2 separate regions of the Homo sapiens genome follow, and region 2 is linked to region 1. Evidence: fine-mapped expression QTL. A gene starts in region 1. The other region holds a variant in brackets. All regions are shown on one strand. Distances are between the middles of the regions.

Evidence for each region. PIP is the estimated chance that this variant, and not a neighbour inherited with it, causes the effect. A credible set is the group of variants that fine-mapping cannot tell apart.
Region 2: its variant is the best candidate, but not a certain one, in a credible set for the expression of CROCC2 in tibial nerve (GTEx, PIP 0.82).

What each region holds. Positions count from the first base shown.
Region 1 is chr2:240,897,243-240,912,674 of GRCh38, forward strand. It overlaps CROCC2 (ciliary rootlet coiled-coil, rootletin family member 2), which reads left to right and starts at 9,094. Exons shown (of 32, transcript NM_001351305.2): 1 at 9,094-9,349. The coding sequence starts at 9,272. RefSeq lists enhancers at 1-85, 4,934-5,435, 5,436-5,935, 7,747-8,247.
Region 2 is chr2:240,924,438-240,939,869 of GRCh38, forward strand. CROCC2 (ciliary rootlet coiled-coil, rootletin family member 2) reads left to right here. Exons shown (of 32, transcript NM_001351305.2): 5 at 1,287-1,443; 6 at 5,729-5,832; 7 at 6,494-6,691; 8 at 7,881-7,977; 9 at 8,265-8,471; 10 at 8,694-8,905; 11 at 9,233-9,415; 12 at 9,894-10,038; 13 at 10,479-10,625; 14 at 10,921-11,151. It overlaps LOC112268440 (a long non-coding RNA gene), which reads right to left and starts at 8,768. Exons shown (of 3, transcript XR_002959483.1): 1 at 8,681-8,768; 2 at 7,917-8,075; 3 at 6,705-7,705. The variant A/G (reference allele first, on the strand shown) is at 8,743.

The DNA.
Region 1 (15,432 bases):
GGCTGCAGCCCAGTGAGCGGGTCTCTGCTTCCATGCCTCCCAGGACAGGGAGCTCACCACCTCACAGGGTAGCCCACGGTCAAGCGAGAGACAGATATCCCTCCTCCAAGCTGGCCCACTCCTGTTCCCTGGAGTTGCTTAGAGCACGTGTCCCCCTCCCCGAGGGCAGCCATTCAGGTTCAAGGCCCCATTTGTCCTGGGCCCTCACCCACGGCCTGCCTAGGTCCCCACACACAGCCGTGTGCCACACTCCTCCATCTCCACAGGACTCTGGCCTGGGGGAGGTGGACGCTGCTGCAGGGCAGCTGGGGTCCTACCCCTCACCCTCGGCCGCAGTGGCCCAGGGAGCTCATCTGCCTGTTCTGGGCCTTGGCTTCAACATCTGTGATTTGATGACACCTTCAGTGTCCCAGCTCCTCCTTCCCAGGAACCTCCCGGTGTTCTGAATTCGCCCAGGAGACCCCCAACCACACCCCAATCTACCCAAAGTGCCCAGGGGCTCTGAGCCATGGGAGGGGCTCGGCTTCTCAGCCCCCAAGCTGCTCCCTCCAGTGGCCACAGAGCAGGGCCCTTCTCCCTCGGGAGCGGCCCCCAGGCTTTGCATCCTCCTTTGCCCCTAAAGCCCCCTCTCCACTGCTGTCAACACCAAGAGCACAAGACCATGTCCCCCCTTTCCTCTCTTCAGCAGGGGATTCCACCTGGCTGACACCCTGTCCTGTCCTTCGCTGGCTCTGGCCTCCTGGCTCCCACCAGTTCCTGAGCTGAATCCAGCTGGTTGCCCCAAGGGACCCCACTCTCTCCACCTGTGCCCCAGCTGAGGTCAGAGCCTCTGATGGGCCAGGCCCCATCCTTGCCCCTTGGCCCTTCTGGCAGGTGGTGAATGACATGGTGAGCTCCCTATGGCTGGAACGGTGTCACACTCCTCAGTGTACCCTAGAGCCAGGCACGATGCCAGGCACACAGGAGCATGTGGAGTACACCAGGGAACTGTGGACAAGCAAAGGTCCCCGGGAAGCTGGACCTGTGGGAGAGAGAGGAGAGCCGCTGCTGACGGAGGGGATGCGGGCACCCGCCCTGGACGGCTGGGCAGCTTTGACCACAAAGGGGCCAAGTGCTCCAGAGGCCTTCAGGCAGCCACTAGCCACAGTGCACCCAGGACTCCAACTCTGACCCCAGGAGGGTAGCGTGGTGAGGGTGGGGAGGGTCAGAGAAACCAGACGTGTCCTGGGGCCTTGGCAACTCAAGAAGGGGTTCCTTGGCACCTGTGGCAACCGCAAATGCTCAGATGGGTGTTGATTCAGTCTCTCAGTAGAGCTCAGGGCCAGAGCACGGATCCTGTATTTCAGGAAGTCCCGGATGTGCTGGGAAAGGCGGGGTGGGAAGCAGACATTCCGGCCTGAACAGAGTCCCAGGGCTGAACCTAGGGAAGCAACAGGGGCACACCCTGAGCCGTGGGGGCTCCACGCAGCTGCAGCCCACAGCAGGGGCATGTTTCCAGGGGTGCGACAGACCACGGCGGAGGTAAAATGACAGAAGTGAATTCTCACAGCTCTGGAGGCAGACGTCCAAGAGCATGGTGTTGTGTGGCTGGGCTCCCTCCGGAGGCTCCAGGGAAGCGCAGCTCCCACCTCTCCCAGCTCCAGTGCAGCCGCGTTCCTTGGCCACGTCTCTCCATCTCCGTCCTCACGTGGCCCTCTCCTGTGGGCAGCTGTGCTATCTCTTTCTGCTTCTCTTACAAGGACACTGGGGAGACCATTTAGGGCCACCAGGCCGTCCCAGATGATCTCATCCCATAGGCCTCCCACAGTTCAGTCTGTTACCACGTAAGATCTCAATTCACCCACGGTTCAGTCTGTTACCGTGTAAGGCCACACTCTCTCCTGTGCTTTATAAGGTCCTGTTCACAGGTTCTGGGGACTAGGAGGTGGCTGTTCCTCAGCCAGCTACGGTCAGCAGCCCCCATACCACCGCGTGCCAGGAGCCCTGCCAGGGCGCTGCCTGCAGGGACCCTGTGCTTGCTGCCCCTCCCCTAGCCCAGCCACCTGTTTGGGAACAGTGGGCACAGCTCTGTGCAGCCTCAGGCATGCAAAAGCAACCAAGACAGGAGTCTCCAGCCGAGGTCTACACCAGCCACCAATGCCTGCAGTACTCCGGGAAGGAGACCCTTCTTCTGCATCGGGCCCTTCTCTCCAGGACACTGTGGTCCGATTCAGCCAAGGTGCCCAGAGTACCTGCCAGGCCTGCTCAGGCTTAGGTGCGGATGCAGAAAAGTCAGACTTGAGCAGACGAGCTTGGCACCATGGTGTGGCCTGAGCAAGTCGCTGCCCCGCCTGGGCTCCAGGTCCTCAACGGACAGTGAGGAGTCCACAGGAGACAGACTCTCAGACAGAATCCAGCCGCCCAGCGCCCAGACGCCCTTTACGCAGATGCCTCTGCGGGGAAGCAGCTTCCGTGCTGACATGAGCAGTCTGGACTTCAGGATAAAGCTGCAATGCTCACCACGAGGGACAAACCCGCGTCCTGACGCCCAGAGCACATGCCCGGCCCCTGCGGCCTCCCCTTCATGGCCTAACTCTGCATCAGGGTGGCGAATAAAATGCAGGACGCCCAGCTGTTAGGATTAATCTGAAGTTCAAATCTAATTTGCATGGCACACAAACATTTATTGTTGTTGATCTGGAGTTGGAATAGAACAGGGATCCCTGTATTTCCACTGCTAAGCCTGGCAGCCCCCCTCGGAGCAGCACTGAGCGGTAGGGGTGAACCCCCGCTGGGAGGAGCAAAGCAAAGAAGCAGGGGCTGGGGGAGGAAGGAGGTGATGGGCAGTTACGCCCCAGGTGGACGGAGATGGCTGGGGAACAGTCAGGTGTGTGGCGGGGTGGGTGGGGTCGTGGGCTGGGGGCTACTTTGGACCACCCTGAGGAGCTGAGCCGCATGGGGCTGAGGGCGGGCTGATCCCTCACCTGGAAAATCCAGTGGGGAGCAGACATTGGAGCAGACTCATTTTTCTGAGGCAGGCTCAGCCCAGGACAGGGGTTGGGCAGGTGTCCCGGGGAGAAGGAAGCTCGACGGCACAGGGGTGGGTGGAGGGCGGTGTGAGAGAGGGGAAGGGGGTGTTCTCTCAGTGGTGGCATGGAGACCGCTCACCTGGGCACACGGGGACACCAGCTCCGTCTGTCCGGGGCTCCAGTCGCCAGCTCAGGGCCAGACCACAGGCTGCAGCTCCCCTGGAACGTGCAGCTGGGTGGGGGAACCCTCTAGGTCTCCCCAGGTGCTGGCCACAGTGGGTTTTGTTTTGCTTGGTGGTTGGCGTTTTAGTTTTTTACATTTTGGTAAATAAACATGACTTTTACCATCTTGACCACCTTTAAGTGTGTGGCTCAGCGCCATGAAGAACATTCGTGTTGCGGCGCGGCCATTGTCACCGTCAGTCTCCAGAGCTCGTCTCATCTTCCAGGCTGAGACTCTGTGCCTGCTCCACACTGACTCCTGCCCCTCCCCCAGCCCCTGGCTCTCACCATACTACCTTCCGTTTCTAGGGCTTGGAGCGCTCCTGGGACCTCAGGTAAGCGTCGGCCTTAGCACGCGCTTATTTCACCTGGCGTTATATCCTCAGGGTTCTTCCAGATTGTGGCATGTGTGAGAATTTCCTTCCTTTTAAAGGCGGAGTAATGTTCCACGGTGGGGACGGACCACATCATCTGTGAACAGACACCTGGGCTCCTTCCACCATCGGCTGCAGTGCAAATGCTGCTATAAACACAGGGGTATGAATATCTCTTTGAGTCTCTGCTTTCAGTTCCTTGGGGTATATGCCCAGAAGTGGGTTCCTGGATCATATGGGAACTCTGTTTAATTTTCTGAGGATTTGTCACACCATCGCCACTGCAGTGCACGAGAGCCCTGGCTTCTCCACGTCCTCCCCAGCACTCATCCTCTGCGTTCTGGGTAAGAGCCATCCCAGGGGTTGTGAAGTGCTGACGTGCTGTGGTTTTTGATTTGCATTTCTCGGATGAGGCGACTCTGAGTGTCTTTCACATGCCTGTTGGCCATGTGTGTATCTTCTTTGGAGAAACGTCTGTTCAGGTCTTTCGCTCATTTTTAATTGTGTTGTTTGTTTTCTTGTTGTTGGGTTGTAGGAATTCTTTTTTTTTTTTTTTTTTTTTTTTTTTAGACAGAGTCTCCCTCTCACTCAGGCTGGAGTGCAGTGGCGCCATCTCGGCTCACTGTAACCTCTGCCTCCCAGGTTCAAGCAATTCTCATGCCTCAGCCTCCTGCGTAGCTGGGATGACAGGCGCACGCCACCAGGTCCAGCTAATTTTTTTGTATTTTTTTAGTAGAGACGGGGTTTGGCCAGGCTGGTCTCGAACTCCTGACCTCAGGTGACCTACCTGCCTTGGCCTCCCAACATGCTGGGATTACAGGTGTGAGCCACCACGCTTGGCCAGAATTCTTTATAAATTCTCAATACTAATCCCCTATCAGATATAAAATTGGTAAATATTTTCTCCCATTCTGTGGGTTTTCACTTTCTTCATAGCATCCTTTGATGCACAAGTTTTCAATTCTGATGCAGTTCAATTTATCTATTTTTTTCTTTCATTGTCTGTGCATTTGATGTCATATCCAAGAAATCACTGCCAAATCCTGTGTCATGAAGCTTTTGCCTACATTTTCTTCTAAGCTCTGTATGGCTTGGGCTCTTACCTTTGGATCCCTGGGCAGGCCAGTAGCCCCAAGCCTCCTCTGGTCCCCAGGCAGGAGGTCCCTCCCCAGGCACCTTTCTTCACTGTGCTGTGGTATTCAGCCTCTGCCACGCTGACAGAAAGCACCAGAGAGCAGGGTCCCCAGGCAGCCCTGCAGCCTCTCCCAGGACCCAGGTCCCCCAGGGCCTGCCACGGCAGCATCCACCGGCAACCCCTCACGTGGATAAACACAGGGTGGGTGAAGAGCGAGGTCTTCTCTCCCACCCCACAGAACCTCTCAGGACCTGCCTGCGCCCACAACCATCTGGATGCCCCCTAAAACCCAGCACATGTATCCAGCTGGCCTCTCCTCTCAGGAGAGTGGAAAAGACCTTGAAAATCACACCAAATGCATTGTTCTCCCGCATCAGACCACTTGCCTCACCAGCCACCACCCCTGCCCTCAGCTGGCCTCCTGTCCACGCCCGACAGATGGGGGTGGGACGGTGCCACTCGGCTGCTGTGTGCAGAATGGGGTGGCACTTCCATGCCCTCTGAAGAAAGTTCATGTGCAGGGCAGCTCTGCAGAGAGGGTAGGCAGTGGACAGAATGTGGCGCCCTCTGTCCCAGCCTCACAGCCTCCAGGGCTGCCCGTCCTGCCGTAATCACACTGGGATCTTTCCTGCCTTCCATCACTGTCTCAGCTCATTCAGTGACTCTGCACCCCCCAGGGCCAGCGTCTCCTCCTCAGAGCCAAGTCCACACCTGGCAGAGTAGACTGTCTGAGAGGACAGCCAGTGACTGCTCAAGAGGAGTGGCTCCATAGCTCCCCGGGGCTGACCTGGGTCACAGCCTCTTTGGGTTCTGTCCGAGGCACATCCCCTGCTGGTGCTAGACAGGAAAAGACACCCATGGCCGGCTGTGTGGGTGCCTGGCGGCCAGAGTGTCTGTGCCTGCTCATCATCGGTTCCTGTGTCCCCATGTGGGCCCAGCACAGCCAGGATTAGGGACTGTCCCCAAGGAGATAAGGCTGTAACTCCTTATCTCCTTGATAAGGAGATACAACGTTATCCTTGATAAGGATAAGCAAGGTTTCCTGTTTCAAGGGAACAATGACAAAACCGGTGATGGCGTATCTACAGACAGGTGTTCCTCTGAGCCCAGGAGGGTTCTTCCTCAGCCTCCAAAGCCAGGCAGGTGGGGCAGGACAAGGAGGACCGCATCTAGAATGGCCATGGGTGCCGAGTACTTTCCCCAGTCCCAGGGAGGGAGGCGTGAGGTCCAGAGAACAAGAGCTCAACCCCCATCAGGCTGTGGGTCAGGACTGGGCAGGGCCCCCCGAGCCCCGCCCTCCCGAGAGCCCACCCCACAGAACGCCTGCACTCAGGGAGGACCCTCTATCCCATCCTCCACTGTCCCAGGGCGTTCCCCGGGGGGCCCAGCCAGGCTCCGGCCAAGGCCTACCCTGTGGGTTCTTCTAGTCTAGCCATGGCCCTGGTCTGGGAGCCCCATAATGGACACCCCGCAGTGAGGCCTTGGGGGGCATGCACGGGGCTGGGCCAGCCCTCGCGCCCTGGAAAGGCATCCTGGGGGGACTCCGGGCCACCGCCGGCAGGCGTGGGCTTTCCTGTACAGACACAGGGGGGCAGGGTTAAGGGGGAGAAGCAGCAAAGGGGGAGAAGTGGAAAAGAAACGAGGATGCGTCCGGTGGAGCAGCCAGGACCCCAAGGCTAAGAGGAGGTGGGCGGCAAGGAGGGCCTGCCTTGGGTCAGGGCCCCACCAAGAGGAGGGACCAACCTTCATGGTTCACCAGGACTCTCCCAGGAAATCCCTCCTCCGTGGGCAAACCCTGCAGTGACTGAGGAAAAGGGGCACGGGAGGACATCTGGGAAAATCATGGACTTGGAGCTGCCGCAGGCGGGGGAGGCTGAACTGCAGGCGGCCACGCCCACCCCAGATGGCACAGAGGCTCCAGGCGATGCCCACCTGGACCGACAAAATCCCATCCTCACGTTTGGTCTCGTCCAGGGCAACTCCACAGCCAGAAGGAACTTTCTAAAACTCAGACAGGCCGGGCGCAGTGGCTCACGCCTGTAATCCAGCACTTTGGGAGGCCAAGGCGGGAGGATTGCTTGAGGTCAGGAGTTCAAGAGCAGCCTGGTCAACATGGTGAAACCCCATCTCTACTAAAAATACAAAAATAAGCTGGGCATGGTGGCGAGTGCCTCTAATCCCAGCCACTCTGGAGGCTGAAGCAGGAGAATCACTTGAACCTGGTGGGGGGAGGTTGCAGGGAGCCAAAATAGGGCCACTGCACTCCAGTCTGGGAGACAGAGCGAGACTCCATCTCAAAAATAAATAAATAAATAAAAATAAAATTAAACACAGATGGGAGCCCCTGCCCACCAGCCCTCCTGAGAGCCGTCACCTGCAGAGGCCACAGGGGGTGTCTCCACCTGGCTGGGCCCAGTGCACGTCACCTTTGGCCTGGATGTACGGCTTCAGGTCAGGGTGTCTCTCCAACACCCCGACTCAGGCCACCGGGCCGCCCCTGAACATGGGCATCTGTGTCAGGACTGACACAGGACTTGCTTCTGGCATATGAGGTCTTATCTCCACCTATCCAAGAGGCCCGCATGGGAGATCACACTAGCCTCCCAGCCACTCCCCACCGTTCACAGGTCCACACGGATGCCCCTTCCTCACTCCACCCGCCCTGCCCCCAGCAGGAACTCTCACCAGAGGCCAGGGCCACACCCTCTAAGCCCTGACCCACCTCAGGGGAGTTCAGCGGAGCCCCAGCAGGAAACGCTGCCCCTCCCCACTCAGGCTGAGGCATGGAGGGCAGGACTCTCCATGGCCACAGGGCCTCCCAGGACTCTGAGGGTGGGCGACCGGCAGTCTTGGGTCCCTGGGGGATCTGGAGGCTGCTCAGGGAGGGGCCTAGCCCATGGAGTGGGTGTCCTCAGTCTGGACCTGAAGCCAGAGGTCATGCTTGGGCCAGAAGCACGAGGTTCGGAAGGACTGACCAGGCCCCTGGCACCCCAGGGACTGTCCAGTGAAGCCCAGCCCGGATGCCCATGGGGCCATGTCTGGCCAGAGAGCCTGGCCTGTCCCTGCAGGGCCACCCTGGAGGTTGTCCTCAGGAGTGGGGGTGAACAGAGCACAGGTGTTTCTCTGGGAGGGCTCCTTTTGAGTACAGGTGCCTCTGCTTCTTGAATTTCGCCTCTGAGGAGGTGGCCTGGGCCCTCAGCCCCTCTCTCGGCAGCCCCAGGGACAAACATGCTGGTCCCCCAAGTTGGCATCCACCTCCACTGCCCGGGCCCCTGTGGCCTTGCTGGGCAGGCTGCCTCCCGGTCTCCTGGGCTGGCTCCAAGAACCTGGGTCTCTGAGAGACTCGGAGATGTACCCATCCCCAGAGGCCCCTGAACAGGGCAGCCTTTCATGGGAGGGCAGCCACTCCTGCTGCAGGGCCCACCTCTGCGGCTGTCCCTTCCCCAGAGGGACTCCTGCCAGCATCAGCTCAAGGAGGTCCCAGCTCAGAATGAGGAGCCCCAGAGGGAGTGGAATGGGGCGGAAACGCTGGCATGGCTGCCTGCCAGGCACCTGACTTCATCTGAGGCCCCAGGAGGCCCAGACTCCGAGCCACAGAGCTCTGCGTCTGTAGGGACAGCCGGCCTGGGGGTGGCAGGCATGGCCCTGCTTCCCTCCCATTGCCCCACCTATGGGAAGCTGCCCTGCCCTGGCATCCAGACAGCCCCTGGCAGCCCCTGGGGTGGGAAGCCGTGGGCAAGTTCTGCAGACCCTCCACCACGCATGCTGACCAGGGACTTCTCCCCTTCGGACAGGGTGGCTGGTGGTCCTTTCCGATTCCACAGGGTGGGAAACAGTGCAGGTTCCCAGGGCAAGGGTGGACCCATGGGCAGGTGACTCTGAAGGGCTCTAGCGGGAGTCAGACTCCAGAAGGACTCACAGGTGCAAGGCCAGGAAGACAAGATTCCTTTGCCCCTCAGGCAGGCAGCGTCCCTCTCCAGGTCTCAGTCCACCACCTGCGACGACCACTACGTTCTTTGACAAATGTTTTTCAAAAGTCATAGTTTATGAGTCCAGATGAAGGAAGACCAGTGCTCTGCATGCTGCCTCTGCCCACCGTGTGTCCAGCAAGCACACGGCTCCCCCTGGAGCGAATGCGGGAGGGGGTGTCTGGGGGAAAGGCCAGCCCCTCCCAGGTGCCGTTGCTCAGGTAGACAGTTTTACCCAGGGCGTCTCCAGGTCTCCAGGCAAAACTGCTTCCAGCCAACAGCGTTCCTTTGTCCCCACAGCAACAGGGTCCTGCACTCCTGTTTCCAGGGAAACCCAGCTCTCAGCGTCCCGGTTGCCACAGCAATGCCTACGGGCTCAGCTGGCCATACTGTCTTACCCACAGGGCAAGAGCAACTGGGTGCCCAGGCTCGGGACACAAGACTGCAGAGCCAGGTGCCACACAGGTGTGGGGCCCGTGGACCAAGGAAGACCCTGGCCAGTTGGAGGAGAACTGCCAGGTAGCAAAGCCCAGACTTCTCTGGGGTCCTGCGCTCTGGGCTGCAATGAGCTCTGCCTCCAGTGAGCCTGGCAATGGGGACGCCTCCCAACAGCCCCTACTGGGGCTGGACACCGTGATCCAGGTCAGTGGGGTGGTCACTTCCCTGCACCCTCCTGAGAGCAGGTTGCCAGGACACTTTGGAAGGGACGCGGCAAAGAGAGGGGATGGCCAGGAGGCACCTTCCTGGCTCCCGGGGCACTTTCCACTTGCTCACGTGTTTGCCTTGAGCGTGCAGCCAGTCACGGATGCAAGCAGGCGCGCCTGCATGCACACACAGGCAGCCTTCAGCCAGGAGAGAGAGCCTGGGGAGAGAGGGCCCAGGGCCGCTGCTGGCTATAGACATTCAGGTGGCCGGTGTCCCTTGCAGCCACAGGTTTGCGGGGTGGAGAGAGAGCCCGGGGCCGCTGCTGGCTGTGGATGCTCAGGTGGCCGGCGTCCCTGGCAGCCACAGGTTTGCAGGGTGGAGAGAGAGCCCGGGGCCGCTGCTGGCTGTGGACGTTCAGGTGACTGGCGTCCCTGGCAGCCACGGGTTTGCAGGCTGCGCACTGGGGTGGGGATGGGCAGGCAGCCCTTGGTGCTGACATTCTGGGACCTCGTTCACTGCCCTCCCATGGCCAAGTGTGGGGCCAGCAGGGCCTCTCGGGGGACAGTGTTTCCATCGCTGCACATTTGTGGGAGGCTGTGGCTCAGCCCTAGTGTCTATTCTGTGGCTTCCAGATGTTCTGGTTCTGTCTTCGTAGCACCTGGTGTGTGACAACAGTGGCTGGGAATTGTCCCGTGTCCCTCTCCCCTTGCCTCCCTACTTCCCAGAGCCCACCTAGGACCCAGCCTGCGGTCCCACCTCGGATATCCCTCCTCCCTGCACTGCCGTCACCTGCTGCTGACCACCACAGCCAGGCGGCCCCACCTCCAACGGACCCCTCGGGACCCCAGGGAACCCCTGACGAACTGGCTTACTCATGGTTGCTTGTTAACCCAGCTCTTAGCATCTCAAAACTATGCCACGGCAGGCTGACATGGCCCTATCCAAACAATACAGATCACCTGAAAAGAGAAATGGCCACAGCTGGTGCAGGTGACCGAGTGACAGGGTAGATGCAGGGTTTGCTCACACACAGGGCTGCATGAGGACTAAGGGCAGGATATTTGAATCAGGCGATGCAACAAGACAAAGAGGTGCCGTGGGGTGAGCTCTACCTCCTCCACCTGGGGTGAGCTCTACCTCCTCCACCTCGGGTGACCTCTACCTCCTCCACCTGGCGTGAGCTCTACCTCCTCCACCTGGGGTGAGCTCTACCTCCTCCACCTCGGGTGACCTCTACCTCCTCCACCTGGGGTGAGCTCTACCTCCTCCACCTGGGGTGAGCTCTACCTCCTCCACCTGGGGTGAGCTCTACCTCCTCCACCTGGGGTGAGCTCTACCTCCTCCACCTCGGGTGACCTCTACCTCCTCCACCTCGGGTGACCTCTACCTCCTCCACCTGGGGTGAGCTCTACCTCCTCCACCTGGGGTGAGCTCTACCTCCTCCACCTCAGGTGACCTCTACCTCCTCCACCTGGGGTGAGCTCTACCTCCTCCACCTGGCGTGAGCTCTACCTCCTCCACCTGGGGTGAGCTCTACCTCCTCCACCTCGGGTGACCTCTACCTCCTCCACCTGGGGTGAGCTCTACCTCCTCCACCTGGGGTGAGCTCTACCTCCTCCACCTGGGGTGACCTCTACCTCCTCCACCTCGGGTGACCTCTACCTCCTCCACCTGGGGTGAGCTCTACCTCCTCCACCTCGGGTGACCTCTACCTCCTCCACCTGGGGTGAGCTCTACCTCCTCCACCTGGGGTGAGCTCTACCTCCTCCACCTGGGGTGAGCTCTACCTCCTCCACCTGGGGTGAGCTCTACCTCCTCCACCTCGGGTGACCTCTACCTCCTCCACCTCGGGTGACCTCTACCTCCTCCACCTGGGGTGAGCTCTACCTCCTCCACCTGGGGTGAGCTCTACCTCCTCCACCTCAGGTGACCTCTACCTCCTCCACCTGGGGTGAGCTCTACCTCCTCCACCTGGCGTGAGCTCTACCTCCTCCACCTGGGGTGAGCTCTACCTCCTCCACCTCGGGTGACCTCTACCTCCTCCACCTGGGGTGAGCTCTACCTCCTCCACCTGGGGTGAGCTCTACCTCCTCCACCTGGGGTGACCTCTACCTCCTCCACCTCGGGTGACCTCTACCTCCTCCACCTGGGGTGAGCTCTACCTCCTCCACCTGGGGTGAGCTCTACCTCCTCCACCTCAGGTGACCTCTACCTCCTCCACCTGGGGTGAGCTCTACCTCCTCCACCTGGCGTGAGCTCTACCTCCTCCACCTGGGGTGAGCTCTACCTCCTCCACCTCGGGTGACCTCTACCTCCTCCACCTGGGGTGAGCTCTACCTCCTCCACCTGGGGTGAGCTCTACCTCCTCCACCTGGGGTGACCTCTACCTCCTCCACCTCGGGTGACCTCTACCTCCTCCACCTGGGGTGAGCTCTACCTCCTCCACCTGGGGTGAGCTCTACCTCCTCCACCTCAGGTGACCTCTACCTCCTCCACCTGGGGTGAGCTCTACCTCCTCCACCTGGCGTGAGCTCTACCTCCTCCACCTGGGGTGAGCTCTACCTCCTCCACCTCGGGTGACCTCTACCTCCTCCACCTGGGGTGAGCTCTACCTCCTCCACCTGGGGTGAGCTCTACCTCCTCCACCTGGCGTGAGCTCTACCTCCTCCACCTCGGGTGAGCTCTACCTCCTCCACCTCGGGTGACCTCTACCTCCTCCACCTGGGGTGAGCTCTACCTCCTCCACCTGGGGTGAGCTCTACCTCCTCCACCTCAGGTGACCTCTACCTCCTCCACCTGGAGCTCGGCCAGCTCTGCCTGGGTGTTGGCTCCATGAGTTCTGAGAGCAGGGCTGGTGAATGGAGGCTGGAGAGCCAGCACACTACGTTTGCAGGACACTTGCAGCCCTGTGAGGATTCTCATCCCCTCGGATGTCAGGAAAGCCGAGGCGTAAGGGTTGGAGGGAGCTGCTGTGGTTAGCGGCTGGTCTGAGGGGGAATCCCAGGCCGATGCTGACATCAGGCAGGGGCATGAGCACTGTGCAAATGTGGCTGAGAGATGCTTAGCTTTGTCTGCCCCCAAATTCCCACTGTCCCCAGGAAACTCATCTGGAGGCTACGCAGGCCCCAGTGAAGTCTGCTCTGCCCGCCCTGCTGACACCTGTTATTTTTGCTGTAGTGATTGAGATCTTGATGCCATTACCCCAGAGTGAGCAGGGAGCAGGCGGGTGCCAGACGCCCAGATCAGCTGTCCAGATGGGCAGCAGAACCGTAGGGACACTCCACCCTCCAGCTATAGCCTGGGAGACCATAGGGCCTGAGGAAGGCCGTGGCTTGAGGATGCAGGAGGCCCCCTGTGACCAGGGGTGGTGGCTCTGGACGGATGGCGAACATGCTCCCAGGCCCGGAGAAGCCTCTCTGACATCCCTCTTCCTCCGGCCACAGCTGCTCTCCCCTCCTTTGGAAGCCCCCCAGCAACCTCTGCACAGCACCCCAGAATGCCCCCACCCTGGAGCTGGAATTGGATGTAAAGGGGCAGGCTTGGAAACTCTCAACCTCTGTCCCTGGGGTGAGCAAGTCGGACTTGGGGAGTGCAAAGCCCCCTGAAATTGCCCGTGAAGTGGGGGGTATCTGTGACTGCCTTGAGGGGTGGGGGTGTGCCCTTCCTCGGAATCTCCAGCACCCAGACCCGCAGCTGATGGAGAAGCATGGCGCAGAGTCCCGGACGAGGAACCCAGCACAGAAAGCCCAGTCCCCTCAGAGCTGGGGGCTCCTCAGACTCCCGTTCCTTGGCTTGAATTTTGATTTGTGCTATTTTTCTAGGAAATTGTCCATTACATCCAAATTTTCAAGTTGTTGAAATTGGCAAAAGTTGTTCACAATATCTTCTTCCTGTCTTTTGGATGTCTGCAGGATCCGTGGGGTAACCAGCTGTCCCTCTTTGCTGAGGGGCTCGAGACAGGGGTTTCCCAGGACTCCAGACAGCCTTGGGTCTGGAACCCCAGTCCTGGGCACAGTGGGGAGGAAGTGGTTGCCCCGAAGTGGCATCCCCTTTCTCGTTTCTGATACTAGCCGCGTACCGGCTCATAGTATTCTTATCTTGTGTTTCATTAACCTACATATGCATTCTTCCTTTAACCTGCATATGCATTCTTCCTTCGCTTTCAGTTTCTCTGGGTTTGTTCTTCATCTCACTTCTGGAAATATGTGCTTGACTCATTGATTGTTCAGCCTTTTTAAAAATTTCTTTTTTTCTGGCCGGGTGCAGTGACTCACACCTGTAATCCCAGCACTTTGGGAGGCTAAGGCGGGCGGATCGCTTGAGGTCAGGAGTTTGAGACCAGCCTGGCCAACATGGTGAAACCCCGTCTCTACTGAAAATACAAAAATTAGCCAGGCATGATGGCAGGCGCCTGTAATCCCAGCTACTCAGGAGGCTGAGGCAGGAGAATCGCTTGAACCCAGGAGGTGGAGGTAACAGTGAGCCAAGATCGCACCACTGTACTCCAGCCTGGGAGACAGAGCGAGACCCTGTCTCAAAAAAAATAAAATAAATTTTTAAAAAAATTTTTCATTTTTCTTTAAATTGTGGGAAAATATACATAACATAAAACTGACCATTTTAACCATTTTTAGGAACAATTCTGTGGCACTAAGCACATTCGTAGCGTTGAGCAACCATCACCACCATCCACGTCCACAACTTTTTTTTTTTTTTTTTTTAGACAGAGTTGGTCTCTGTCGCCCAGGCTGGAGTGCAGTGGTGCGATCTCGGCTCACAGCAGCCTCCGCCCTCCCATCTTCAAGCAATTCTCGTGCTTTAGCCTCCCCAGTAACTGGGACTACAGGCACACGCCACCATGCCCAGTTATTTTTTGTATTTTCAGTGGAGACGAGGTTTCGCCACGGTAGCCAGGAGGGTCTCGAACTCCTGACCTCAAGCGATGTGCGCGCCTCAACCTCCCAAAGTGCTGGAATTACAGGTGTAAGCCGCCACGCCCGGCCCCAGAACTTTCATCTTCCCAAACTGAGACTCTGCCCCCATTCAACATTCACGCCCCATTCCCCCCTCTCCCAGCCCCCACCATCCTACTCTCTGTCTCTATGAACTTGGTGACTCTAGCAGCCTTGTCTAAGTGGATCAGATGGTATTTGTCCCTTCGTGGCGGGCTTATTTCACTGAGCATGACACCCTCGAGGTCCACCCATGTTGTAGCAGGCGCCAGCATTTCCTTGCTTTTTAAGGCTGAGTAATGTTCTACTCATAGAGGGACCACACTCTGTTTATTCATTCATCTCTGAATGGACGCCTGGGTAGCTTCTGCCTGCCGGCCGCTGTGAAAATGCTGCTGTGAACCTCGGAGTACAAATATTTCTTCGAGCCTCTGCTTTCAATTCTTTCGGGCAGATGCCCAGAAGTGGATGGCTGGGTCGCGCGGAGAGTCTACATTTAATTTTGTGGAGACCTGTCATGCTGTCTTCCGTAGTAACCGCACCGTCTTACCCTCCCGCTTCTTTTCCTCTCTGACGTACGCACTTCCCTCCAGGCAAGGTTTATCTGTCTGTACTGTTGTTACTCATACCACTTTTAACACCAAATGTGTGGGTTTTTCCTGACACCAGCCAATTCTCCACCTCCCTGGACACCAGCTAGCTGTCCTACAATTCAATCCAGTTCGGACCCTAACCATCCAGAGCGGGCACAGACCCACAGTTTAAGGACTCAGTCCCATAAAGCTGCCCCACCTCAGATGCCAATCACAAGTCCTGGGCCTCCCGTATTCTGTCTGACTGGCTATGAATTAGGGGTTCTTCCAACTCCCTGCTCAACTTGATAATTTGCTGGAACAGCTCACAGAACTCTGGAAGTGACTTTCCCATTTGATTACTGGTTTATTATAAAGGACACAACTCAGGACTAGCCGGAAGGAGAGGTGCCCAGGTCAAGGTACAGGGGGCAGGTACGGAGCCTCCAGGCCCCTGGGCACACCAACCACCCACAGCACTGCCTTGTATTCAGCAACCCAGCCTGCCCAGCCCTGTGGTTTAGGGTTTTTATGGAACCTTCATTAAGTAGGCAAA
Region 2 (15,432 bases), 27 kb after region 1:
AACCCGGCCCCCACACTAACCCAGCCCCCAACACTAACCCGGCCCCCCACACTAACCCAGTCCCCACACTATCCCGGCCCCCACACTAACCCGGCCCCCACACTAACCCAGCCCCCAACACTAACCCAGCCCCCCACACTAACCCGGCCCCCCACACTAACCCGGCCCCCCACACTAACCCAGTCCCCACACTATCCCGGCCCCCCACACTACCCCGGCCCCCCACACTAACCCAGCCCCCACACTGACCCGGCCCCCCACACTGACCCGGCCCCCACACTGACCCAGCCCCCACACTAACCCAGCCCCCACACTAACCCGGCCCCCACACTGACCCGGCCCCCACACTAACCCAGCCCCCACACTAATCCGGCCCCCACACTAACCCGGCCCCCACACTGACCCGGCCCCCACACTAACCCAGCCCCCACACTGACCCGGCCCCCACACTGACCCGGCCCCCACACTGACCCGGCCCCCACACTGACCCGGCCCCCCACACTGACCCAGCCCCCACACTAACCCGGCCCCTCACACTGACCCGGCCCCCACACTGACCCGGCCCCCCACACTGACCCAGCCCCCACATTAACCCAGCCCTGCACAGCAACCAAGGCCCACCAGTCTCCCAGACCTGGGGAGGTTAAGTTGTCTATAGAATATCGACACATTTGGTTCATCCTCCAGGAATCTGGAAAAGGAATCAAAGTGCTGAGAAACTTTTGAAAACCAGTTTTGAGGGGGAAGAAAAATAACCCAAGAGGAGGCTTAGGCCTGGCGGGGGTGCCGGCTCCCGAGGTCCACCCACCTGGCGGACTTGCACCCCTACTGCAGCAAGTGTGGACCTACTTGTGGTGGGGAAGTCCCCAGGGTGCAGCAGAAGCCGTCCCCCACCACGGGCATGTCTGACTCCCTCTCCGCGTCACCCCGCCCCGCGAAAGGCACCTCCCTCCCAGCCCCTGGCACCTTGTCTCAGGCATTGAGGGACGGGCCAAGGTTGCAGAGCCAGAGCCAGGAGAGCTCGGGGCAGGGGCAGATATCGCAGGGAGGCAGGAGGGCACTGGGCTGGCACCTGGGAGAGCCACCTTGATGCTGGCACTCAGTTTAGGGGTCCTTTGTGGGGCCCATGGCAGGTGGGGGCAGAGCAGCGGCTGTGCACCTGAGCCCAGGTCAGTTAGGCCCAGAGGGTTTGGGGTTCCATTCAAGCCCCTTGACTTGGGGACTCTGAGCGCCTCTCTTAGGAGAGGCTTCCTACCCCCACCATGCCCTGTGGGTTCTCTGTCCAGGAGCACCGGCCTCTGTCAGGTGAACGCGCTCCTGCGGGAGCAGCTGGAACATATGAAGAAGGCCAATGACGCGCTGGGCCGGGAGCTGGCCGGGATGACGGGCAGCGTGCAGCGCCTGCAGGGCGAGCTGGAGCTGAGGCGCTGGGCCCAGAGACAGGTGCTCCCCCAACCCTTGCTCACCTCATGGCGGCCGCCTGTCTGGGTGCCTATGGCTGGGTAGCAGGCAGGGACATGGTGAGGGTGCACTGGCTCAGTGGCTGTCCCTCTTGGGGACGAGGCCACAGCTTCTTGCCACACCATGTCCCCAACCCGGCTTGGCCACAGCAGTCTGTGGAGTGAGGGACTTCGTGGTCCACCCCTACTGCCCCCCACCCGGAGAAGGAGGGCAGGGATCTCAGAATGGGGCACTGGGGCCGCACCCCAGCTCTGGTGTGGACCACGCTCTTTGGAGAGGCAGGTTGTTCTCCGTAGGCCGAACTCCTGGCCAGACTTCAGGAGCAGGGACCTTGGAAGGAGCCTGGGGCTGCACTGCTGCTCACAGCACCTGGCCGTGGCCCCCCAGGTCCCCCTGCAGCCTTTCCCACTCCAACTTCTGAGACCCTGAGGCATGCAGGGGGTCAGGGCACAGAGCTCCAGGCACCAGCCCCTGTGGGAGGGAGACATCCAGGTGTTCATGCCCTGCTCGGATCTCTCCATGGTCGTGGGACCCCCTGAAGCTGCTGTGGCCTTGGGTACCGTGGCTCTCCAGCCAGGCAGTCCCTGAGGGCCTGAAGGTGTTCCCAACAGCCCTCCAGCAAAGGGGGACTGGACGCCCAGCCCCTGCATGCTATGGGCACCACGGGCAAGGATTTCCCCAGGAAGACGGGCCCCCCGGAAGATGTGCTGCGCCAGGTGGAGGCAGGAGCCGGAGGGGCAGCCGCGTTTCTGGCCTCCAGTTGCCTCCACAGACGTCCCTCAGACAAGCCTGTCCCAGAGGGGCCGCCACTCGCCCCCGAGGTCCCAGCCCCGAGCCCCCCACAGCTGCTGCTCCTGAAAGGCAGGTGTCAGACAAACCAGCCGAGGTTTACACCCCGAGAGGGAATGCCGGCCTCTGCATAGCGTCAGCGGGAGCCGTGCTATCAGCAAGGAGTCATCGCCTATGCCAGGCCTTCTGGCTCGAGGCGTTTGAGGCAGATCTCATGTTCCCACTGCCTGGTCCCTGTCCTTGGACCGCTGGACAGGTCACCTGAGGATCCCGGGAGCCGATTCTGCTGTGTGAGAACAAATGCCAGAAGGAGAGGGTCCCTGAGCTCAGTTTGGCATTCGATCACCCAGGTCTTTATTTTCCCTTTGTCCTTGAGAACTGTTCTCACTGGTTGACAGCTGCTTTCTCTCGGCACCTTAAAGATATGCTTTCTCTTTCTCCTTCCGCTGCTGCTGTTGAGAAGTCAGCTTCCAGGCTGCCTGGATTCTGACTGGCTCCTTATCGAAGTAACATGTCTTCTCACCGGCTGCTCTGAAGACCCCTGCTCCGACTTGTTGTTGTGTCGTGTCCCTGTGTTGTGTCTGCGTGTAGATTTATTTGTTTATCCCGCTTTAGGGTTCGCGGAACCTCTGTGTCGCTTGTTATTTTGGGGAAGTCAATATTCTTTAAACATTGCCGGGGCTCATCATCCATCTCCCCTCCTCTGAGCTCCGGCTAGACATGTGTTAGCCATTCTTACGCTGTCTCCCAGGCACAGTTCACGGATTTGTTCTTTTTATTACCCTAGACTATATTCTAGATAATTTCTTCAAATTTCCTTTCCAGTCCATCAGTTTTCTCTTCTGATGTCTAATCTCTGTTAAATTTGCCTACTTAGCTTAAATTGCCAATATTGTATTTTTCCTCATTAAGAGTTCTGTTTGATTCTTTCCCAAATATTAAATAGCTTACTCTTAACTCACATTTTCTTTTTTTCTTTTTGAGACAGAAGCTTGCTCTGTCACCCAGGCTGGAGTGCAGTGGCACAATCTCAGCTCACTGCAACCTCCGCCTCCCGGGTTCAAACGATTCTCCCGCCTCAACCTCCTGAGTAGTTGGGATTACAGGCGTGTGCCACCACGCCTGGATAATTTTTGTATTTTTAGTAGAGATGGCATTTCACAATGTTGACCAGGCTGGTCTCGAACTCCTGACCTCAGGTGATCCGCCTGCCTCAGCCTCCCAAAATGCTGGGATTACAGGCATGAGCCACCTCGCCTGGCTTCTTAACTCACATTTTCAAGCCTTTTATTTATTTGTTGAACCATGTTAAAAATAGTCTTTTTGTAGCCTGTGTCTGACTATCCAATATCTGAAATTCTTTAAGGTCTGGTTCTATTGTTTCTGCTGGTTTCTGATCATGGTCCTTTGTTTCCTTGTGCCTTTGGTGATTTTTTATTTTTTAACTAAGAGCTGCTTATTTTCCTTGGAACTCTGTGAAGTTTCTTTGAAACCTGAGGTGAATACAGTATTTTCTAGGAAGGGTTTTTATTTGTTTCTGATAGATGCCAAGGGGCTCTAACAGTCTTTGGGGCCACATTGAAGTACATTTTCAGCTTCAGTTTTCTTGAGACTATCCTGGTGATGTAGTGTGCTTCCATATCCACAAGGAAGACTTTTTTCTCTGTTTAACTCCGACATTCTGGACAGGCAGTTTTCCTTATAATCTCTTGCAGGGTCATGTGTGCCTGTTTTGTGTGTGTGTGTGTGTGTGTGTGTGTGTGTGTAGCAAGAAATTGCGTACACTCCCCGATGGTCTGTGACTTCACCAACTCCTGGCCTAAGTGTTCCAGCCGTTCAGGCCAGCCCAGCCCTGCATTCAGGAAGAGGCTGTGAATCTGGACTCTCATGAGTTTAAGCGGCAGGTTAATCTGGCAGCCACACCTCCATGTTGCCAAGAAGTGTCTCAGCCTGCTCTTGTGATGAACACGGAGTGCAGGAGGCGGTGCGGCTGAAGCAAGCGTCTACCCCGTACAGCAGGCACGGGGTGGCATGCCCTCGGAGGGCGTGCAGACAGGTGTAACGGGCTCAGAGGAGCACGCCCTCGGAGGGCGTGCAGACAGGGGTAACGGGCTCAGAGGAGCATGCCCTCGGAGGGTGTACAGACAGGTGTAATGCACACAGAGGGGCATGCCCTCTGGAGGGTGTATGGCCAGGTATGGGTTCACAGAGTCATGCCCTCCAGAGTGTGTATGACCAGGTGTAATGGGCTCAGAGGAGCATGCCCTCGGAGGGTGTATGGCCAGGTATGGGTTCAGAGAGTCGTGCCCTCCAGCGGGTGCATGGCCAGGTGTAATGGGCACAGAGGGGCATGCCCTCTGGAGGGTGTACAGCCAGGTGGAATGGACACAGAGGGATGTGTTCTCCGGAGGGTGTATGGCCAGGTGTTATGGGCTCAGCTGGGGGGAATCTCAGGTGTGGGATCAGGTGAGGGGGTCAGGCAAGCTTCATGAAGGTGAGTTGATCTAATACCTGAAGTTCTTCAAGGTCTCGTTCTATTGTTTCCGCTGGTTTCTGGTCATGGTCCTCTCTGGGGGTTCTGGAGAACGGGCAGGATGTGAGTGCTCTACCTGAAGGCACCCTGGAGGAGCAGGGGTGGGGCTGTCACAGGCAGGCAGAGGTGGTAGAAACACAGTAGCACCCTGAGTTCCAGAGGTCAGTGAGCAGGAGAAGGTGAGTGCAGGGCCTAGAAGGTGGTGTGGAGACTCTGAGACTTCTGGCTTTCATCTTAGCTCCCTGCAAGGCTGGAACCACTGTGCACACACAATTCCCCCCATTCCTGCCCCCACACAGAGTCCTCCCACTCCGCTCCGTTACAGCCTAATCACTGGCCTTGTCTCGGTTGTGGCTTCCCACCCTCCTCCCTGCTGAACTGGGTACCCAGTGCTAGAGGCTTCTAACTTGCTTCTGTGTCCCTGGCACCTTCGAAGTGCCAGACCAACACCTGGACATCTTCAGGAGCCCTCCAGAGTAAGGAGAAAGACTGTACTGGAGAAAGGCAGCCCGTCCTCTTCCATTGGAGTGGCAGGGCAGGAGCCCTGTGCTGCAGAAATGTCTGCCCCAGCAGGGGCCAGGCCTGGTTCTGGGGTGTTCCAAGCCTGAGCAGTTCCTGAGAGTAGCTGGGGAGCCGCGACTGAGTCAGCACCTTCTCTCTTCAGGGGCCCACGCACCCCACCCTCCCACCTCCATGCACGCAGGCTGGCCTGGGAGGGCTGGATGTGGTCACGTCCCCAGATCATCTCCTGGGGAGGGGCACAGTATGGCCCCAGGGTGGGGTTGGGGGAGCCCAGGGCTCATTTGCCTGTGAGATATGGGGGCTTTGGGATGCTGGGTCCACTTCCAGCCCCCATGGAGAGGGACATGCACTTGGAAAAGAGTGGGCTTCAGGGAGGGTAAAGGGGCCCCAGCCTGAAGTAGACAGGAGGCCTCTTGCTTTCAGACCCGGTCAGGGGGCCTGGGGCAGCCCCGGGACCTCCTCCTCCTGTGGAGACAGGCCGTGGTGCTGGGGACAGACCTGGCCGAGCTGCGTGTAGCCACTGAGAGGTGAGTGCCAGCCGCCCCACCTGGGGCCAGGCACCAGGCTGCAGGGAGCTGAAACCCCCTTGGGGAGGGGGAAATCGGTGCCCAGGGCGGGCTCTCCCGTGGGTGCAGTAGCCCTGGCCTGCCGGCTTCTCACCCAGCCCTGGCTGGGCCTCAGGCCGGCCAGTGGGAGCAGCGATGAGGGCAGCCTAGGAGGGCAGTAGGGGAGAAGGACAAACAGGCCAGGGAGGTAGGTTGGGGACACCAAGGAGAGATGAGAGGAGGGTGAAGAGGACACTGTGGGGTGGGGGACACCTACCCAGATGGAGCTTCTGGAGTCTGTCCAGCCCTTGCTGGGTGCCACACTGGAGGTCAGTCCTGGTACCACCCTGCTAGCCCTTAGGTACGTAGCAGCCCCTTGCGCAGGAGGAGTCGGGGGCTCAGAGGGTCGATGACTCGGTGAAGGCTGCTGAAGCCTGAAGTGTGCAACCTGGTCCTGCCCCTGCTCACTCCTCCCCAGCTGCCTTCCTGGTGTTTGGTGACACATGGGAACAATCAATGCCATGCAGTGGGGGCTTCTCCTGACGATGGCCAAGGAGGGGGTCCTCTGTGGGGCTGATGGGACCAGGCCCTCCCTCTGCAGATGGGTCCTGAGTCCGCCACAGATGCTGCCCTTGTCTCCCAGGGGCCTCGCTGACCTGCAGGCAGACACGGCCAGGACAGCCCGCCGCCTGCACACCGCCTGCCTGAACCTCGACTCCAACCTGCGGCTGTCGGCCAGCAGCACGGCCAGCACCCTGGGGCAGCAGCTTCGGGACAAGGCTGGGGAGATGCTGCAGCTGCAGGGCCGCTGGGACGCAGAGAAGGTGGCGCTCCAGGCCAGGTGGGCGCCCAGGGCCAGCAAGCTTGCACAGGGAGGGCCCGGGGGGTCGGGGCCCATCCAGCGTGCCGAGCAGCTGTGGATCCCAGATGTGGTCACACCGTTCCAGGGCAGGTGGGGCCCTGATGTCACTGGTGGTGCACACTCTTCAGAGTCACCATCCCAGTGGCTGCAGGGCACTCCCCTAATGCCCAGGAGGCAGACACTGGGGTCTCCTACAGTGAGGGTTTCAGGGAGCACGGCAGGGAACTCACTGGGACTGCGTCCTGGGGGTCAGCACCCAGAACTGGAGTTTTCAGGCTTAAAGCAGGAACATTCTTCTAGGGGCAAGAGCTCACCTTAGGTAAATCATATAAAAACCGAGGCAGGAAGAGGGACCAGGCCACCTCCTGCCCGATATGAAGGACACCCACGCCCTCTCTGGGGGTCTATGAGCCCCGCCGTGATTGTGGAAGGTTTTGGACCCACCACCCACATCGGGGGCTCAGAGGTCTCTTGAGGGCAGCTTCAGCAGAAAGTAGGGAGGCGGCTCCCCAGTGGAGGTCTAACCTGCTGGCCGTGGGGCCAGTGCCTTACAACCCAGGGTCCAGGGCCCACTTGTCCACAAACACCCCACCAGGCTGACAGGCAGAAGCCCTCCCTACCCTCAGGGGGTCCAGCTGAGTCAAACACACCACAACCCAGCCCCAAATGAGCAAGACAGGACATGGGGGCCCAACGGTGCCATACAGCTGCAGGGGCAGCACACCAGGGCCTGAGCCACAGGAAGGGGGACCTGGGGTCTTTAGGAAGAAGGTGCATCCTGGGAAGGAAGGAACAGTAAAATTACTTATTGTTAGACTAATGGTGACAGGTGCTCCAGGCAGAAGGACTGGCCAGGAAAAGGCCTGTGGTGGGCACTCCCTCTGTTGTGCCACAAGGACAAGGCAGAGCCTCGGGCAGCCACTGCATCTGAGGCTGGAGAGCTGGTCAGGGTGTGGGCCTTGACTCCTGAGACACTGGGAGCCACTGAAGGCTCTGTGGCAGGAGAGACACATGCTCAGACCAGGGACAGAGGCCACTCAGACGGAGGCATCACCCAGCACCGGCAGGGGGGCCACCGCACAAAGGAGTCCGGGCAGAGCCAGGGCATGCTTGGGTGCCCGTCCTCTGGGCCCTGCCCTTCACCCCCACACCCCCCGACTCCTCCCAGACTCTCGGAGCAAACCCTGCTGGTGGAGAAGCTTACAGAGCAGAATGAGCAGAAGGCGAAGACCATCGCTGCCCTCAGAACCGACCTGCAGAACCTGGTTGGTGGGCAGGACGGGGGTGGCTGTGTGGCAGGGGTCTGTCACCCTTGCTCAGGAGTCTCCCCTGCCACAGGAAGCCTGGTGCGGCAGTGGACGGCCTGCAGGGCAAGGTGGGGTCCCTGCAGTGCACTTTGAGGCACGTCAGGAAGGTGTGGCCCCTCGCCTGTCCTCCCAGTGGCAAAGGTGGAGGTAGCCCGCAGGGACCCTCAGGACTGTCTGCGCGGTCCCCACCAAATCATGGCCCTGTGCTCTGGGCCCCTCTATCCCTTCCTCTCTGCACCTTGAAGGTGGCCCAGGAGGACGCCCGGTGCCTGGAGCTGGCAGGTAGCAGCATCACTGAATTGGGGGAGCCACGGCGCCCACTGAGGAGCCCCCAACGTGCCACATCCCCCCATCAAGGGGCGTCCCCACCACACATCTGCTCCCCAGCCACCCTGGACCCCGCACTGCAGGCCATGCGGGCAGCCATAGAGAGGCGGTGGCGGCGGGAACAGGTGGGCAGCCGCAGCCCACAGGACTCCCTGTCTCCCTGAGGGCAGAAACATGAGCCCCTCAGGCTGAAGGGTAGTTATGGGGCCTGCCCCTGAGCCCCATGGCTCCAGGGAGGGGCCCCAGTGTCGGGGGTGTCCTTTCTGGGGAGTCGCAAGCCCTGGTGGGCCTCGGTGGGCAAAGCCTGCCTAGGCCAGAGAGGCCCACAACTTACCCCACCCGAGCAGGAGCTGTGCCTGCAGCTGAAGTCCTCCCAGGCACTGGTGGCCAGTCTCC[A/G]GGAGCAGCTGTCCGAAAGCCGGCGGGAGCTGTGGGCCGCACAGAAGCTCCAGCAGGAGCGGGCTCGGGAGCAGGCACGGGAACGAGAGGCTCTTCGGGGCCAGCTGGAGGCCCAGAGGCTCGAGGTGCAGCAGTGCCGGGCATCCTGCAAGCTCCTGGGGAGGTAATGGGGTGAAGGGGTTGCACGGCCTTGCACAGGGTGTATGGGATCCTGAGGGCCCAGGGCTGCTGTCAGGACAAGCACCTCTAGAGCTGGAGGGGTTGCCAGCCGGGGAGGGGTCCTTGCCTTCTAGCAGAGTTGTGTGAGCACCAGTTGAGCGTGGGCCAGGGTGGGACACACCCGCCAGTGAGACCCTGTCTGCTTCTCAGGCTCCCTCTGCCCATGCAGTCTCAGGGGCTGGCATCCACCCAGCCCCCAATGCCCACCAAGGCACGCGGTGCACCTTGAATGTGTCCAGGGCCGCCCCAACTCTGCCCCCACCATCCCCAGGGAGAAGGCTGCTCTGGAGATGGTGGTGGAGGAGCTGAAAGGGAAGGCAGATGCTGCAGATGCGGAGAAGCAGGGGCTGGAGGCCGAGGCTGCAGAGCTGCAGAGAAGCCTCCTGCTGCAGGCAGAGCGGAGGGAGGAGCTGGCTCTGCGGAGGGAGCGGAGCTGCAGGGCACTGGAGACCAGGTGCGCGGCCGTGGCTGGGTGGGCAGGGCCCCTCCCACAGAAGAGACCCCACTCTGCCACCATCAGCCACTTGGCCTTGGGCCACGGGTCTGCTTTTTCACCTGTCTCATCTCAGGGTGTGGTGGCCCTAACAGGGCAGGGGCGGGGGCTCTCCAGGCTTCTCCCCAGGCTGCACCATCCTCCAGACCAACCCTCACTTCCTCTGGCCCAGTGCCCCACCTGGGCCACCACCCCGTGGGCCCATCAGATGTGGGGCCCCACCCCTCCCGTCCCCCCGGAGGCACTTGTGCCTCCCCTGCCCCGGAAATGAAGCCTGGAAGCGAAGGGCTCCCTGCCTTCCTGGTCCTCCAGGGACTCCATGCTCCTCCTGGGCCTCCCTGGGCTTGGAGGGAGTTGCAGGTGGTCGCCTGCCTGAAATCCCATGGGGCAGCCACTGCTCACCCTGAGCGACCTCCCGCCCTCTGGTCTGGGGCCTCAGTCAAGGCCGCCTGCAGCAGCTGGAGGAGAAGGTCTCCGGGCTCAGAGAGGAGCTGGCATCGGTCCGGGAGGCACTGAGCACAGCACAGCTGCAGCGGGATGTCGTGGAGAGTGAGAGGGAGGGACTGCGCAGCGCCCTGGCGCGGGTACACTCTGCTCCCCACAACCCCGCCCCCTCTCCTGTCTGCCCCCACCCACCCTGGCCTCACTGACCTGGCCTCCCACTCCCTCTCTCCTGCCTGCCGGGCCCCTCAGCCCATCACCAGAGATCCCAAAGTCACCAAAGTTCTCTCCCGTCCCCAACCAGTAGGCACCAGCCTGGCCCAGCTGCTGTCAACCCTGCTGGCCACGCCTGCTTCTTTGTGGCCTCTCCCTGGACCACCAGCCACCTCCTCTGGCTGGAGCCTTAGTGCCTGGAGCCACCATTGGCCCTGAGACCTCCCCACTGTGGCGACCTTCCCACCATGTCCGCCCAAGAGCTCTGGCTTGCACACCTCCGTGGCTCAGGGCTCACTCCTTTCCCAGCGGCAACAGCCCTGCCCTGGAAGCTGAAGGTCCCTCCCTGGCATCCCCCTCCCTGCCCCAGGCCGAGTGCAGCAATGCGGACCTGGAGCTTCTTGTGAGGCGGCTGAAGTCGGAGGGAGTGGAGCAAAGGGACTCCCTGGCCGCAATGGCCGCCTTGATGGAGGGGTTGGCTCAGGACAAAAGTGCCCTGAACCACCTGGCTCTCCAGGTGAGACAAGGGCCAGTGGGGCGGGCCTCGCTGGAACCTGTTTCCCAGGTGGCTGTGGGTCTCCCAGCCCTAGGCCTTCTTTCCATCCTCCCAGATCACTTCCTCTCCTGGTTTGAGGTTTTGGGGACAAGGGAGCCTGACTAGCCCTGGCCAGGCCTGAGGGAGGGAAGAGAGTGCCCCTGGGCCAGGCCTGAGGGAGGGAAGACAGTGCCCCGGGGCAGGCCTTGGGGATGGCTGGCCTACAGGGACCGAGGATGGGGGGAGTGGATGCAGAGCCCCCGACACCTGGTGGCAGCTGGAGCAGGAGCGGGACCAGCTGCGGGAACAGCGGAAGACTCTGGAGCAGGAACGGGCCCGGGCCGGGGAGCAGCTGGCACAGGCGGAGCAGCAGCTGGCGCTGGAGCGGGCAGAGCGCAGGGGCCTGCAGCAGGCCTGCGGACGCCTGGAGCAGCGGCAGGAGCAGCTGGAGGGGCAGGCAGCCCTGCTGGGGCGAGAGAAGGCCCAGCTCCAGGAGCAGGTGGGCCAGGTGAGGACGTCTGCAGGGCATGCTGCCGCCGTCTGGGATGCGGCTGGGTGGCAGGTCTTGCCTAAGGTACTTCTGGGAGTCAGGCAGGCTCAGGATGCCCACATCAGCTCTTTCTGTCTTGGTAACGGATCAGGCCCAGTGCTGGCCTCCCCGTGGGGGTGGGGGCAGGGGGAAGGTATGCAGAGAAGAAGATTCCCATCAGGCCTGGCCACCATATCCATCCCGCCACTTGGCAGGGGAGCCCGGGCCTCAGGCCAGTGACTTCTGCACACTGGGCTCTTAGTGAGCTTTGCTGTTTCCTCCTCTGTCTTGTTTCTCCCTGGTCCACATCCACACAGCTGAACTCTGCGACTGCACATTCACTGGTGCCTCACTCATTTATTCCCAATTTCCCCATCTTTTGTTGAGGAAGCTCAACTCACTGGAGAAAAAAACAGTCTTGGTTTTTTCCAATCCTGCCTCGTTCATCCGTGTGAAAACCCTGTCCATGCTGAGTTTCAGGCCCCTGTGACTCAGATTCCGCAGCCCCCGTCACATTCAGGACAGCTCAACCCTCCTTCCGTTTTCAGATTCTGCCTTGTCCTTTTCTGGGGTCACCTTTTTCCTCTTTTTCTATTGACATTTAATAAGTCAGTGTACAGTATCAATGAATTTTGACAATTGTACAAAGCCAGGTAGCCGCCACCAGGATCAAGACACAGAACATTTTTGTCAGTCCAGCAGGTTCCCCCACGTGCCTTCAGCCATTGCCCAAAGCCCCCGGCTCCCACCCAGGTGACCTCTGCTCTGATGTGCAGCACCACGGACTGGATGCACCTGTTTCCGAATTCCTTATAAATGGAGCCATGCAGTGTGGACGCTTTTGTGTCCAGCTTCTCTCTCTCAGCATCATGTCTTGGAGATCCATACATGTTGTTCAGTGTATCACTAAGCCCTTTCTTTTTAACTGCATAGTTATATTCCTTGGGATGAGTAAACCACATCTGCTTACTCATCCACCTGTTGCTGGACATTTGGATTGTCCAGCAACAATGTTTCCAATACTGGTCCTGCCTACAAGGTCCTTCCTTGACCCTGCCTACAAAGGGCACTTTTACATATCACTGGGACCAGCACCCAGGTGATGTGAATTCTCTGCCTGAACCCTGCCTACAAAGAGCATTGTGGCTTATGTCTAGGTCCATTATGTAAGTGATGTGACTCCCTTCTACTGCCTTGGCCCTGTACTTATGTTGCATTGTGTGACACACACTTGGTGATATGGTTTAGATTTGTGTCCCCACCCAAATCTCATGTCAAATTGGAGGAGGGGCCTGCTGGGAGGCGACTGATATGGGACTGTGATGCACAAGGCTGCTATAAACCTTCTTGTACAAGTCGCATACATATATTTTTATTTTTCCTAACTAAATACTTAGGACCAAAACTGTGCACTCACTGTATAGGTGTGTGTTGAACTTTTATAGGGAACAACCAAGCAGCTTTCCGAAAAAGCAGGCAGCTTTCCAAAAGTGGTTCAATCACTTTGCTGCAGCCAGCAGTGTAGAAGAGTTCCAGTTGCTCCTCTGCCTTCTCGACATTTGGTATTGTCTGTTTTTTTGGGTTTTGTTTTTTGTTTTTTTAGCTATTCTGTATATGTGAAGTGATACATCACTGAGGATTTCATTTGCATTTCCCTCATAACTGAAGATATTGAACACATTTTCATGCATGTATTGGATATTCGTATGCTTTATTTTATCAAATGTTCAAATCTTTTTCCTATTTTTTAAACTGGGCTTTTGCATTTTGGTTATGAATATACAGGAATTTATATATCATGGATACAAGTACCTTGTCAGATACATGTCCTATGACTATTTTCCCCAAGGTTGTGGCTGCCTGTACATTTTCTCAATGATATTTTTTATGGATGGACATAAAATTTTAACTTTGGCAAACTCCAATTTATCTATTTCTTTTTTTAGTTTTACAATTAGTATTTTCTAGGTTCTGTCTGAAAAATTTTTGCCTACCCCAAGGACAAGAAGATATCCTCCTACATTTTCATCTGGCTTTCACATTTGGATCTATGATCCATTTCAAGTTTATTTTTATGGACAGCAGGGGTTCTCCACGTGTGCTTCCCAGACTAGCAGCATAAACATCACCAGGTGATATGGTTTGAATCTGTCTCCCCACTTAAATCTCATGTCAAATTGGAGGAGGGGCCTGGTGGGAGGTGATTTGTTCATGGGGCCAGATTTCTCCCTTGCTGTTCTCTTGATGTTGAGTGAGTTCACACAAGATCTGATGGTTTAAAAGTGTGTGGCACTTCTCCCTTCACTCCCTCTCTCCTGCCACCATGTGAAGAAGGTGCTTGCTTCTCCCTTCACCTTCCGCCATGATTGTAAGTTTCCTGAGGTCTCCCAGTCATGCTTTCTATTAAGCCTGTGAACTGTGAGTCTGTTAAATCTCTTTTCTTCATAAATTACCCAGTCTCAGGTAGTTCTTTACAGCAGGGTGAGAACAGACTGATACACCTGGGGACTTGGTAAAAATGCAAATGCTCATGCCTCACACAAGACTTACTGAATCAGAAACTCTGTGGGCGGGGCCCAGAAATCTGGATTTTAATTAGCCCTCCTTGGGATCCTGCTGCACACTAACGTGTGAGGACCACATGTGTATGGTATGATGTAAGAACTAAGGTCCATTATTTTTCATACTAATACCCAGTTTTTCCAGCACCATTTTTTTCAAGTCTCTCCTTTGGTCCTTGATTAAATGTGGCAACTTGTTGAAAATAAACGGATCATATATGTGGGATTTGTTGATCTGTGCAAGTCAATCTATTCATTCTTTCACCAAAACCACACTGTCTTGATTATGATAGCTTTTTAGTAAGTCTTGAAATTGAGTAGTGTACACACATCCACCTTGTTCTTTTTCAAGATCGTTTTGGCTGTTCTAAATCCTTTGCATATGCATATACATTTTAGAATCATCTTGTCAATTTCTTCTTCCCTCCCCTGCAAAATAGCCTACTAGGAGTTTGATTAAAATTGTTTAGAATTTATAGATCAACTTGAGGAAATGGACATCTTAAATATACTGAATATTACATCCATGAATATGGTATATCTCTCCATGTCTTTACTTTCTTTCTCTCAGCCATGTTTGTAGTTTTCAATGTAGAGTTTTCTTCCACATCTTTGATTAGGTTAATTCTAGATTTTTATATCATGAATTATATTACGGTTTTAATGTCATTTTCTTATTGTTCATTATTATAGAAATACAATTTCATATGTTTATTTTGAGTCATGTGACCTTGACAAATTCACTTATAAGTACTAAGGTTGTATGTTTATATAATTATTCATCTGTAACAATAGTTTTACTTTTTTTCTGATCTGAATATCTTTTATTTCTTCTTCTTATCTTATTGCACTAAGACCTGCAGAACAAAGTTGAATATAAGTGGTGAGAGTGGCCATACTTCCACCCAAGGCAATCATGGGGAAATAATTTGATGTTTCACCATTAAATATGATGTTATCTGTAGGCTTTTCATAGATGCCCTTTATCAGAGTAAGGAAGTTCCCTTCATTCCTAGTATGCTGACATTTTTAAAAAATTATAAATGGGTACTGGGTTCTGCTAAATTCTTTTTCTGGAACTATTAAGATGATCACATCATTGTTCTCCTCATGTTGTTAATGTAGTGAATTACACTGATTAATTTTTTAGATGTTAAACTTGCATACATAATAAGCCCTACTTTGTCGTGAGTTAGTATCCATTTTATATATTTTTTATTCAACTTATAAATATTTTGTTAAAGATTTTTGCATCTATATTTGTGAGTAATATTTCTGTAATTTTCTTTCCTTGGAATCATCAGATTTGGAATCAGAGTTGTGCTCCTAAAATACACTGGAAAGTAGTCTCTCTTCCTCTGTTTCCTGAAAGTGTGTGTGTAAAATTGGTATTACTTATTTCTTAAATGTTTGGCAGAATTCACTAATGAAATAATGTGAGTCTGGGGTTTTCTTTGTGAGAAAGCATTTGATAATGAATTCAATTTCTTTAACAGATATAAAATCTATTACAATTTCTTATTAGTTTTTATTTATGTTTCTTCATCTGCATCCTAATAATTTTGCATGTTGTGTTTTTATTATTAGTCAATTCAAACTATTTTCTCTTTCCCCATGTGATTTATTCTTTGCCCCGTGGATTATTTGGACATATATGGCCTAACTTCCAAATAGGGTTTTCTAAATGTCTAATTGTTAT